Regions from separate parts of the Homo sapiens genome. Here region 2 is linked to region 1. Evidence: fine-mapped expression QTL. A gene starts in region 1. The other region holds a variant in brackets. All regions are shown on one strand. Distances are from middle to middle. Region 1 holds the start of CCDC158 (coiled-coil domain containing 158). Region 2 overlaps CCDC158 (coiled-coil domain containing 158).

What was found. PIP is the estimated chance that this variant, and not a neighbour inherited with it, causes the effect.
Region 2: its variant is the best candidate, but not a certain one, in a credible set for the expression of CCDC158 in lung (GTEx, PIP 0.80).

What each region holds. Positions count from the first base shown.
Region 1 is chr4:76,418,401-76,423,571 of GRCh38, reverse strand. It overlaps CCDC158 (coiled-coil domain containing 158), which reads left to right and starts at 2,431. Exons shown (of 25, transcript NM_001394954.1): 1 at 2,431-2,607.
Region 2 is chr4:76,317,340-76,322,510 of GRCh38, reverse strand. The region is part of intron 24 of CCDC158 (coiled-coil domain containing 158); the gene reads left to right. Among named protein-coding and RNA genes, the nearest start is that of STBD1, 13 kb to the right of the region's middle. The variant G/A (reference allele first, on the strand shown) is at 3,114.

The DNA.
Region 1 (5,171 bases):
ACGCTCCTCACTTCCCAGACGGGGTGGCTGCCGGGCGGAGGGGCTCCTCACTTCTCAGATGGGGCGGCTGCCAGGCGGAGGGGCTCCTCACTTCTCAGACGGGACAGTTGCCAGGCAGAGGGTCTCCTCACTTCTCAGACGGGGCAGCTGGGCAGAGATGCTCCTCACCTCCCAGACGGGGTCGCGGCCGGGCAGAGGCGCTCCTCACACCGCAGACGGGGCGGCGGGGCAAAGGCGCTCCCCACATCTCAGACGATGAGCGGCCGGGCAGAGACGCTCCTCGCTTCCTAGATGGGATGGCGGCCGGGAAGAGGCACTCCTCACTTTCCAGACTGGGCAGCCAGGCAGAGGGGCTCCTCACATCCCAGAAGATAGGCGGCCAGGCAGAGACGCTCCTCACTTCCCAGACGGGGTGGCGGCCGGGCAGAGGCAGCACTCTCCGCACTTTGGGAGGCCAAGGCAGGCGGCTGGGAGGTGGAGGTTGTAGCGAGCCGAGATCACGCCACTGCACTCCAGCCTGGGCACCATTGAGCACTGAGTGAACCAGACACCGTCTGCAATCCCGGCACCTCCGGAGGCCGAGGCTGGCGGATCACTCGCGGTTAGGAGCTGGAGACCAGCCCGGCCAGCACAGCGAAACCCCGTCTCCACCAGAAAAATACGAAAACCAGTCAGGCGTGGCGGCGCGCGCCTGCAATGGCAGGCACTCCGCAGGCTGAGGCAGGAGAATCAGGCAGGGAGGTTGCAGAGAGCCGACATGGCAGCAGTACAGTCCAGCTTCGGCTGGGCATCAGAGGGAGACCGTGGAAAGAGAGGGAGAGGGAGACCTTGGAGAGGGAAAAGGAGGGGGAGGGGGAGGGGGAGAGGGAGAGGGAGAGGGCCCCAGCTTTATTGTCACAACCTACACATAGCATGTTGTAGGTGCCCTATAAATATGGATGGAATGAATGAATGAATGGAAAAGGACTTTGGATCCCTTTCTTGATCTTTTAATTCTTTATTTAAAAAGCTAAGAAGCTGTTTTTAATACAATATTTAAAAAATGTTGTAAAACCGCAGGACACTTCAAAATGTGATGAATTTTATAGTAAAATCAGGGGCACATAACTTTTCGTACATATATGTGGGTGTAGATAATTTCATGCTACACTAATTAACACACCTTTTAATTAAAGACGTTGAAAAGAAAAAAACCTTTTTGTGTGTGTCCAGGGTACAAGCACAAAATGAGACACCAATGGAAACCATGTATTAGGTATGGAAAATTTTTATGTCATTGAACACTCATGTTTTGATAGAAAAAAGAAAAAATTAGAAATTGCTTTTTGTCCAACCACAAGACCTAAATTATTTACCTTTCTATGTAATACTTATGGTTTCACTTCCTGTTAAAAATGCTCGATTCTATAGCTAATCCTAGATCTCTATAAGCCAATAAATGGATTAACTACAAAGATATGATAAACAATCTTTAATGGCATTTAATCTATTTTTATTAAAATTTGTAGCTACATTATTTAATGTAAGACTTACTAATATTTCTAATCAACTTATACATAAAAAGTTATTTGCTGTAGGTGTCTGCACAATGTGATTGCTAGCAGAATTAAATGCCTCAGGCTGCATCTATCAGACACTGGCCTTTCTGGATGCGTTCCATTTGATCGATAATTTGGGCAGCAAAATCTGATAAATTCTATATTAGAGATAATGACAGAGGGTAACTGTAGCACAGCGGAGGGAACAAGTCTCCAGAGGCAGAAGGGTCAGCTATGCCGAGAACACGTTTGAACTTGAACATTCGGGGACAGAGAAAACAGAGCTGCAAAATGTGAATTCTGTTAACTTGAAATGGTCAAATGGGAATGCCAGGAGTGGGAATGGGAGGGGGGGGTGAGGTGGGGCCGGGTGGGGGTGTCAGAGTAGGAGGCCCGGCGGGCAACTCCAGATTGGGCTTGACTCTTTGGCAGGTAAGAGCTCAGACTGGTGCGGGTCAGTGAGTTATCTGGGAAGACCACGGTGGGGACAGCTACGAGAGTGGCCCGAGGCGCTCGGGTGGGGGCAAGAGTAGGGCCGGAGACCAGTTAGGAGGCTGTGGGAGAAGCGGCAGAGGGCGCCGGGTGCAGGTCCGAACCCAGGGTAGTTTCTGGGGCAGGGCTCCAGGATTTGACTCCGGGCTGGGTACACCCCCACTCCTTAGGGCGCCCGGGCGGTGGTGGGGACTTCGACGCTCGGATGCCCCAGCGACGGCGTCCGGCGGGCGGAGTCGCAGGCGCGGGAGGGGTCCCCGCCGGGCAGCTGCCGAGCACCCCCCTCCTCCCCTCCCCCAACTACGAAGCCTCGCAGAGCGTCCTAACCGTCACCCACGCGGCTCGCGCGGACTGGGCAGCGCCCCGAGCGCCACAGCCGCGAGGAGTGACGGGCGCGGGCAGCTTCCGGCGCCGCAGCCGAGGAGGAGGAGCCGCCCCGCAGCCTCCGCGGGGCCTAGGGGCGAAGAGTGGGGAGCCGCCCCGTCCCAGCCGCCAGGTCGACGTAGGTGGGGCCGCTGCGCCCGCCGGCGCCCCGCGGAGATGTGGCCGGTGTCTTAGGATTAGGTGTTGGTTGCAGGTACAAGCGGGGCGCGGCCCGGGAGACGAGGATGGTGGGGTGGGAGTGGGGTTCTTCTGAGGACCCGGAGCGACTCGTGTTCATTTCTGGAATCTTCCGGTGCCTCGTGTTTGTTCTGCACATGGAAGATGCCCAATAAATTGTTTCTTTACTGGAATGAGCTGCTGTTGTTTTAGGGGATTGCAAGACCCCTGGGGACGGTGGCGCTGAAACCTGGACCTTGAAGAACACAGGGGCCTGCGCAAACTGATTTGATTTGTGGGGAAGAGAATCACCGAGTAACCTGCCCCAACGTGACTGCTGACTCTGTGTCTACCGCGCTGCCGCGAACAGGGGGAGGAGATGGGGAAGACTTGGTGGTAGAGAGGACAGCCTCGCATCCAAGACGGAATGGTGTTAAATGCCGGCGCAAGGGCCCTTTCAGCTTGAGCCCTGTCTTTAAACCACATGTGGGGGTCAGAGCTTTCCCTCATTATCAGCATCAATCAGCAACACAATGAGTTCTGGAAAGTCTCCATCCTTTTCCACAGCACTCTGCTCCAGGCCCCACTCAGGCTGCTCCAGGTTTTGTTTGTGCCTCATGCTGAACTCCAACGTCAGGGGAAAGTAGAAGTGAGGTCGGCTGTTGCCCAGGTTTTTTGACTGGCAACCAGTTCTTGCTGCTTCTCTCAGCAGGAGATTAAGGCGTTGTGGCCGGGTATGGCGGGGGCGTGTGGGGAAAGGACCAGGGCTTCCACATATCCCAGAGACATGCTAGGTAGGACTGTTTCTCTGTGCGGAAGCTCATCAGGTAAGGGTGCAGGAGTGCTGAGAGAGATGTGGTCCTCCTATCTCTGTACTGCGCTCATTGCTTTTAATCTTAGTGCGGTTATCTTACTTGTGTTGTGGGTGAAATGGTTTCCATGCCATAGAGTTAATATTATACTCCCAAAACAAATTGAGGACAGCAATTTATTTGTATGTATGCAAAGCCCTTACTGTTGTTGTGCATTTACAATGAGGACTTAGTTTTATCTAGTATGTTATGAGTGAGCCACTTTAGACCTCCACCATTTATTAAACAGGGCCTCTTGTGATCCACCCGTCCCCCAGCTAGATGGCCCCAAATTATATGGTAGGCTGAGCAGTGGCCACTCAAATATGTCAGGTCCTAATCCCTGAAACCTGTAAATGTTACCTTATAAGGGAAAAGTGCCTTTGCATACGTGATTAAGTAGCTTGAAATGGAGAGATTATCGTGAATTATCTAGGTGGGTCCTAAATGCAAACGCAAAGGTCCTAAGAGAGAGAGAGAAGCAGATTTGATATAGGCCGAAGAGAAGGCAATGTGACCACAGAGGCAGATATTGGAGTGATGTGGCCACAAGTCACCAAATGCCTGGCAACCAGCAGAGCTAGAAGAGGCAAGGAACTGATTCTCTTGCAGAGCCTCCAGAGGGAGGGAGGGAGCCCTGCCAACACCATGCTTTCTTCCCCATGAGACTGATTTTGGATTCCTGGCCTCCAGAATTATGAAAGAATAAGTTGCTATTGTTTTAAGCTACCGAGTTTTGATAATTTGTTATGGAAACTGTAGGGAACTAATACATATGAGCGTGCTCATAAATCACATACATGCTGTACTGATGAATAGTTTACAGGTCTTCAGCTGGGGCAATAGTGGGGTACAGTAGTGGAGATCACTGTATATTTATCTGAATCCTGTAAATCCTAAAGAAAGGATTTGAATAGGGAATTTGGTAAGAAAAGAAATTTAAGTGGTGCATATGAAGGAGGTAGTCTGGCATTTAAAGCAATTTTTTAAGAGTATTCCTATTAATATATCACTATTTGCTCTGGCTAAAAAGAATAAAGGTAAAAAGTGGCAAAGGCTTTGTCCTTACCTTAGCTGAATCATTATTGATTATCCATTGTGTGTATATCAAGTAAGAGTTGCAGACACCTGGGGATTGAGGTCCAGGCCTGGGGAAAAGAGGGAATGCAGAAGTGCTTCCATGTATTAAAATATGGCTAAAAGCAACCGCTAGTCATCTGGAATTAAGATACTTTGGAGTTTTCAGGATACAGGAAAATTCAGTGTTCAAGTTTAATGATTCACTTCTGGGACCCAGGCAGCTAATTTACACTTCCCACTTTCCTTGATATGGTTTGGCTGTATCCCCACCCAAATCTCATCTTGGATTGTAGCTCCCACAATTCCCGTGTGTTGCGGGAGGGACCCAGTGGAAGGTAATTGAATCATGGGGGCAGGTCTTTCCTGTGCTGTTCTCGTGATAGTGAATAAGCCTCACAAGATCTGATGGTTTTATAAAGGGGAGCTCCCCCTGCACAAGCTCTCTCTTGCCTGCCGCCACATAAGACTTCCCTTGCTCTTCCTCCATGATCGTGAGGCCTCCCCAGCCATGTGAAACTGTGAGTCCATTAAACCTCTTTTTTCTTTATAAATTACCCAGTCTTGGGAATGTCTTTATCAGCAGCATGAAAACAGACTAATACACTCCCCACATCTGCTTTCTTTTCAAACTGCTTTATAAGGTATAATTTACATACCATAAAATTCACCT
Region 2 (5,171 bases), 100 kb after region 1:
TGAGCACTTCCCAACTGTGTGCCAGGCCTTTTACTCAGAGCTTCACTTGCGTTTTCTTCATGTAATTTTCACAACAACATTGGGAAATGGGTACTGTTATTACAGCATTTGAAAATGAGGAAACTGAAGATAAAAGAACAGTCAATAAATTCCAAGTCACAGTGAAGAGTAGATCGGGGACTTGGCCTCTGCAATTTCTGACTCCAAAATCCACATGTTTTTAATATAGTAAGGCTTTAGCAAATTGTTGTTGAAGAAAATTCCAAGTCCCTGTGATAACCCAAGACCCCTATGTATATGAACATTAGGAAAAGCATTTGGTTTTAAGTTTATTGTGAATTTGTGGGGTTTTAGCATTTTTTTTTAAATTTCAATAGTTTGGGGGGAACATGTGGTGTTTAGTTACAGGGAAAAGTTCTTTAGTGGTGATTTCTGAGATTTTGGTGCACCCATCACCCAAGCAGTATATGATGTATCTTTTTTCCCTCACCCACCTCCCACCCTTCCCCCAAGTCCTCAACGTCCATCGTATTATTATTATGCCTTTGCGTCCTCATAGCTTAGCTCCCACATATAATGAGAACATACAATGTTTGTTTTTCTTTTCCTGAGTTACTTCACTTAGAATAATGGTCTCCAACTCCATGCAGGTTGCTACAAATGCCATTATTTTATTCCTTTTTATGGCTGAGTAGTATTACATGGTGTGTATATATATACATATATATATTTATTATATATATATAAAAAATATATATATTTACATATATATGTGTACACACCATGTAAATATATCATATATATATATACACACACCATGTAAATATATATATATATAAAAATATACATGGTATATATATGGGGGAAGAATGGGAGGTGGCTGAGGTGTGTGCATATATATATAATATATTATATTATATATATATACACACCATGTAATAGTCTCTCTATATATATAGATAGATCGATATAATTTTCTTTATCCACTAGTTGGTTGGTGAGCATTTAGGCTGGTTCCATATTTTTGCAATTGTGAATTTTGTTGCTATAAACATGCGTGTGCAAGTGTCCTTTACATATAATGACTTCTTTTCCTCCAGTAGTGGGATTACTGCATCAAATGGTAGTTCTACTTTTAGTTGTTTAAGAAATCTCTGTACTGCTTTCCATAGTTGTTGTACTAGTTTACAGTGTAAAAGTGTTCCCTTTTTACCACATCCACACCAACATCTGTTGGTCATATTTTTAACTTATGTCATATTTTTAAATTATGGCCATTCTTGCAGGAGTAGGTAGTATCATACTGTTGTTTTGATTTGCATTTCCCTGATCATTAGTGATGTTGAGCATTTCTTCATATGTTTGTTGACCATTTGTGTATCTTCTTTTGAGAATTGTCTATTCATGTCCTTAGCCGACTTTTTAATGGGATTATTTGTTTTTTTCTTGCTGATTCGATTGAGTTCCTTGTAGATTCTGGATATTAGTCCTTTGTCAGATGCACAGTTTGCAAATATTTTCTTCCACTCTGTGGGTTGTCTGTTTACTCTGCTGCTTATTTCTTTTGCTATGCAGAAGCTTTTTAATTTAACTAGGTCCCATCTATTTATCTTTGTGTTTGTTGCATTTGCTTTTGGGTTCTTGGTCATGAACTCTTGTCTAACCCAATGTCTACAAGAGTTTTTCTGATGTTATCTTCTAGAATTTTTGTGGTTTCAGGTCTTAGGTTTAGGTCTTTGACCCATCTTGAGTTGAAGTTTCATTCTTCTACATGCCACTTGCCAATTATTCCAGCACCATTTGTTAAATAGGGTGTCCTTTCCCCACTTTATGTTTTTGTTTGCATTGTCGAAGATCAGTGGCTGTAAATTTTTGGCTTTCTTCCTGGGTTCTCTATTCTGTTCCATTGGTCTATGTGCCTATTTTTATACCAGTACCATGCTGTTTTGGTGATGATAGCCTTGTAGTATAGTTTGAAGTCAAGTAATGTGATGCCTCCAGATTTGTTCTTTTGCATAGTCTTGCTTTGGCTATGTGGGATCTTTTTTTTGTTCCTTATGAATTTTAGGAATGTTTTTTCCAGTTCTGTGAAGAATGATGATGGTATTTTGATGGGAATTGCATTGAATTTGTAGATTGCTTTTGGCAGTATGATCATTTCCACAATACTGATTCTACCCATCCATGGGCATGAAATGTGTTTCCATTTGTGTGTGTTGTCTATGATTTCCTTCAGCAGCATTTGTAGTTTTTCCTGTAGCGATTGTTCATCTCCTTGGTTAGGTATATTCCCAAGTATTTTATTTTTCTTGCAGCTGTTATAAAAGGGGCTGGGTTCTTGAATTGATACCAAGCTTGGTCATTGTTGGTGTGTAGCAATGGTACTGATTTGTGTACATTGATTTTGTATCCTGAAACTTTACTGAATTCATTTATCAGATCTAGGAGCTTTGTGGATGAGTCTTTAAGGTTTTCTAGGCATAGGATCATATCATCAGCAAACAGCAATAGTTTGACTTCCTCTTCACCCATTTGGATGCCCTTTATTTCTTTCTCTCGTCTGACTGCTCTGACTAGGACTTCCAGTACAATGTTGAATAGCAGTGGTGAAAGTGGGCATCCTCGTTTTGTACAAGTTCTCTTGGAAAATGCTTTCAATTTTTCCCCTTTCAGTATAATGTTGGCTATGAGTTTGTCATAGATGGTTTTGGTTACCTTGAGGTATGTCCCATCTGTGCCGATTTTGCCGAGGGTTTTCATTATAAAGGGATGCTGGATTTTGTCAAATGATTTTTCTGCATTTTTTGAGATGATGATATGATTATTGTTTTCAATTCTGTTTGTGTGATGTATCATATTTATCAACTTGAGTAGGTTAAACCATCCCTGCATCCCTGGTATGAAACCCACTTGATCATGGTGTATTATCTTTTTGATATGGTGTTGGATTCAGTTAGCTAATATTTTGTTGTGGATTTTTGCATCTATGTTCATCATGGACATATATATATATATATATATATATATATATATATATATATATATTTTTTTTTTTTTTTTTTTTTTTTTTTTTTTTTTGATACGGAGTCTTGCTCTGTCACCCAGGCTGGAGC[G/A]CAGTGGCATGATCTCAGCTCACTGCAACCTCCACCTGTCGGGTTCAAGTGATTCTCCTGCCTCAGCCTCCTGAGTAGCTGGGATTACAGGCACATGCCACCATGCCTAGCTAATTTTTTTTTTTTAAGATGGAGTCTTGCTCTGTTGCCCAGGCTAGAGTGCAGTGGCACGATCTCAGCTCACTGCCAGCTCTGCCTCCCGGGTTCACACCATTCTCCTGCCTCAGCCTCCCAAGTAGCTGGGACTACAGGCGCCCACCAGCACGCCTGGCTAATTTTTTGCATTTTTAATAGAGACAGGGTTTCACTGTGTTAGCCAGGATGGTCTTCATCTCCTGACCTCAAGATCTGCCCACCCCAGCCTCCTAAAGTGCTGGGATTACAGGCGTAAGCCACCGCGCCTGGCCACTCCCAGCTAATTTTTGTATTCTTAGTAGTGATGGGGTTTCACCATGTTGGCCAGGCTGGTCTCGAACTCTTGACCTCGTGATCTGCCCACCTTGGCCTCCCAAAGTGCTGGGATTGCAGGTGTGAGCCACTGCACCCGGCATCATCATGGATATTGGTCTGTAGTTTTCTTTTTTTGTTATGTCCTTTCCTGGTTTTAGTATTAGGATGATACTGACTTCATAGAATATGTGGATTTTTGCATCTGTGTTCATCATGGATATTGCTCTGTAGTTTTCTTTTTTTGTTATGTCCTTTCCTGCTTTTAGTATTAGGGTGATACTGACTTCACAGAATGATTTAGGGAAGATTCCCTATTTCTTTATGTTTGAAACAGTTTCATTAAGATGGGTACCAATCCTTTTTTAATGCCTGATAGAATTCAGCTGTGAATCCATCTGGTCTTGGACTTCTTTTTGTTGGCATTTTTTTAATTACTGTTTCAATCTCACTACTTGTTATTAGTCTCTTCAGAGTTTCTGTTTTTTTTCCTAGCTTAATCAGGAGGGTTGTATATCTCCAGGAATTTTCCATCTCCTCTAGATTCTCTAGTTTGTGCACATAAAAGTGTTCATAGTAGCCCTAAATGATCTTTTGTATTTCTGTGGTATAAGTTGTAAAATCTCTCATTTCATTTCTAATTGAGCTTATTTGGATCTTCTATCTTCTTTTCTTGGTTAATCTCACTAATGGTCTAATAATTTTATCTTTTTAAAGAACAAGCTTTTTGTTTCATTTGTCTTTTGTATTGTTTTTTATTTATTTACTTCAATTTCATTTAATTCTGTTCTGATCTTTGTTATTTCTTTTCTTCTGCTGGGTTTGGGTTTAGTTTGTTCTTGTTTCTCTAGTTCCTTGAGGTGTGACCTTAGAGTGTCTATTTGTGCTCTTTCAGACTTGTTTATGTAGGCATTTAAGGCTATTAACTTTCCTTTTAGCACCACTTTTGCTGTATCCTAGAGGGTATGATAAATTGTGTCACTAGTTTCATTCAGTTCGAAGAATTTTTAAATTTTCATCTTGATTTCATTATTGATCCAAAGATGATTCCAGAGTAGATTATTCAATTTCCATGTATTTATATAGTTTTGAGGGTTCCTTTTGGAGTTAATTTCTAGTTTTATTCCACTGTGGTCTGAGAGAATACTTGATATCATTTTGCTTTTCTTAAATTTGTTGAGACTTGTTTTGTGGCCTATCATTTGGTTTACCTTGGAGAATGTTCCATGGGCTAATGAAAAGAATGTATATTCTGCAGTTGTTGGGTAGAATGTTCTGTAAATATCTGTTAAGTCTGTTTGTTCTAGGATATAGTTTAAGTTCATTGCATTGTTTAGGTGCATTGTTTTTTGTTGTTGTTGTTGACTTTCTGTCTTGATGACCTGTCTAGTGGTATCAGTGGAATATTGAAGTCCTCCACTATTATTGTATTAGCATCTATTGCATTTATTAGGTCTAGTAGTAATCATTTTATAAATTTGGGAGCTCCAGTGTTAAGTGCATATATATTTAGGATTGTGATATTTTACTGTTGGACTGATCCTTTATCACTATATAATATCCCTCTTTGTCTTTCTGAACTGTTGTTGCTTTAAAGTGGGTTTTGTCTGA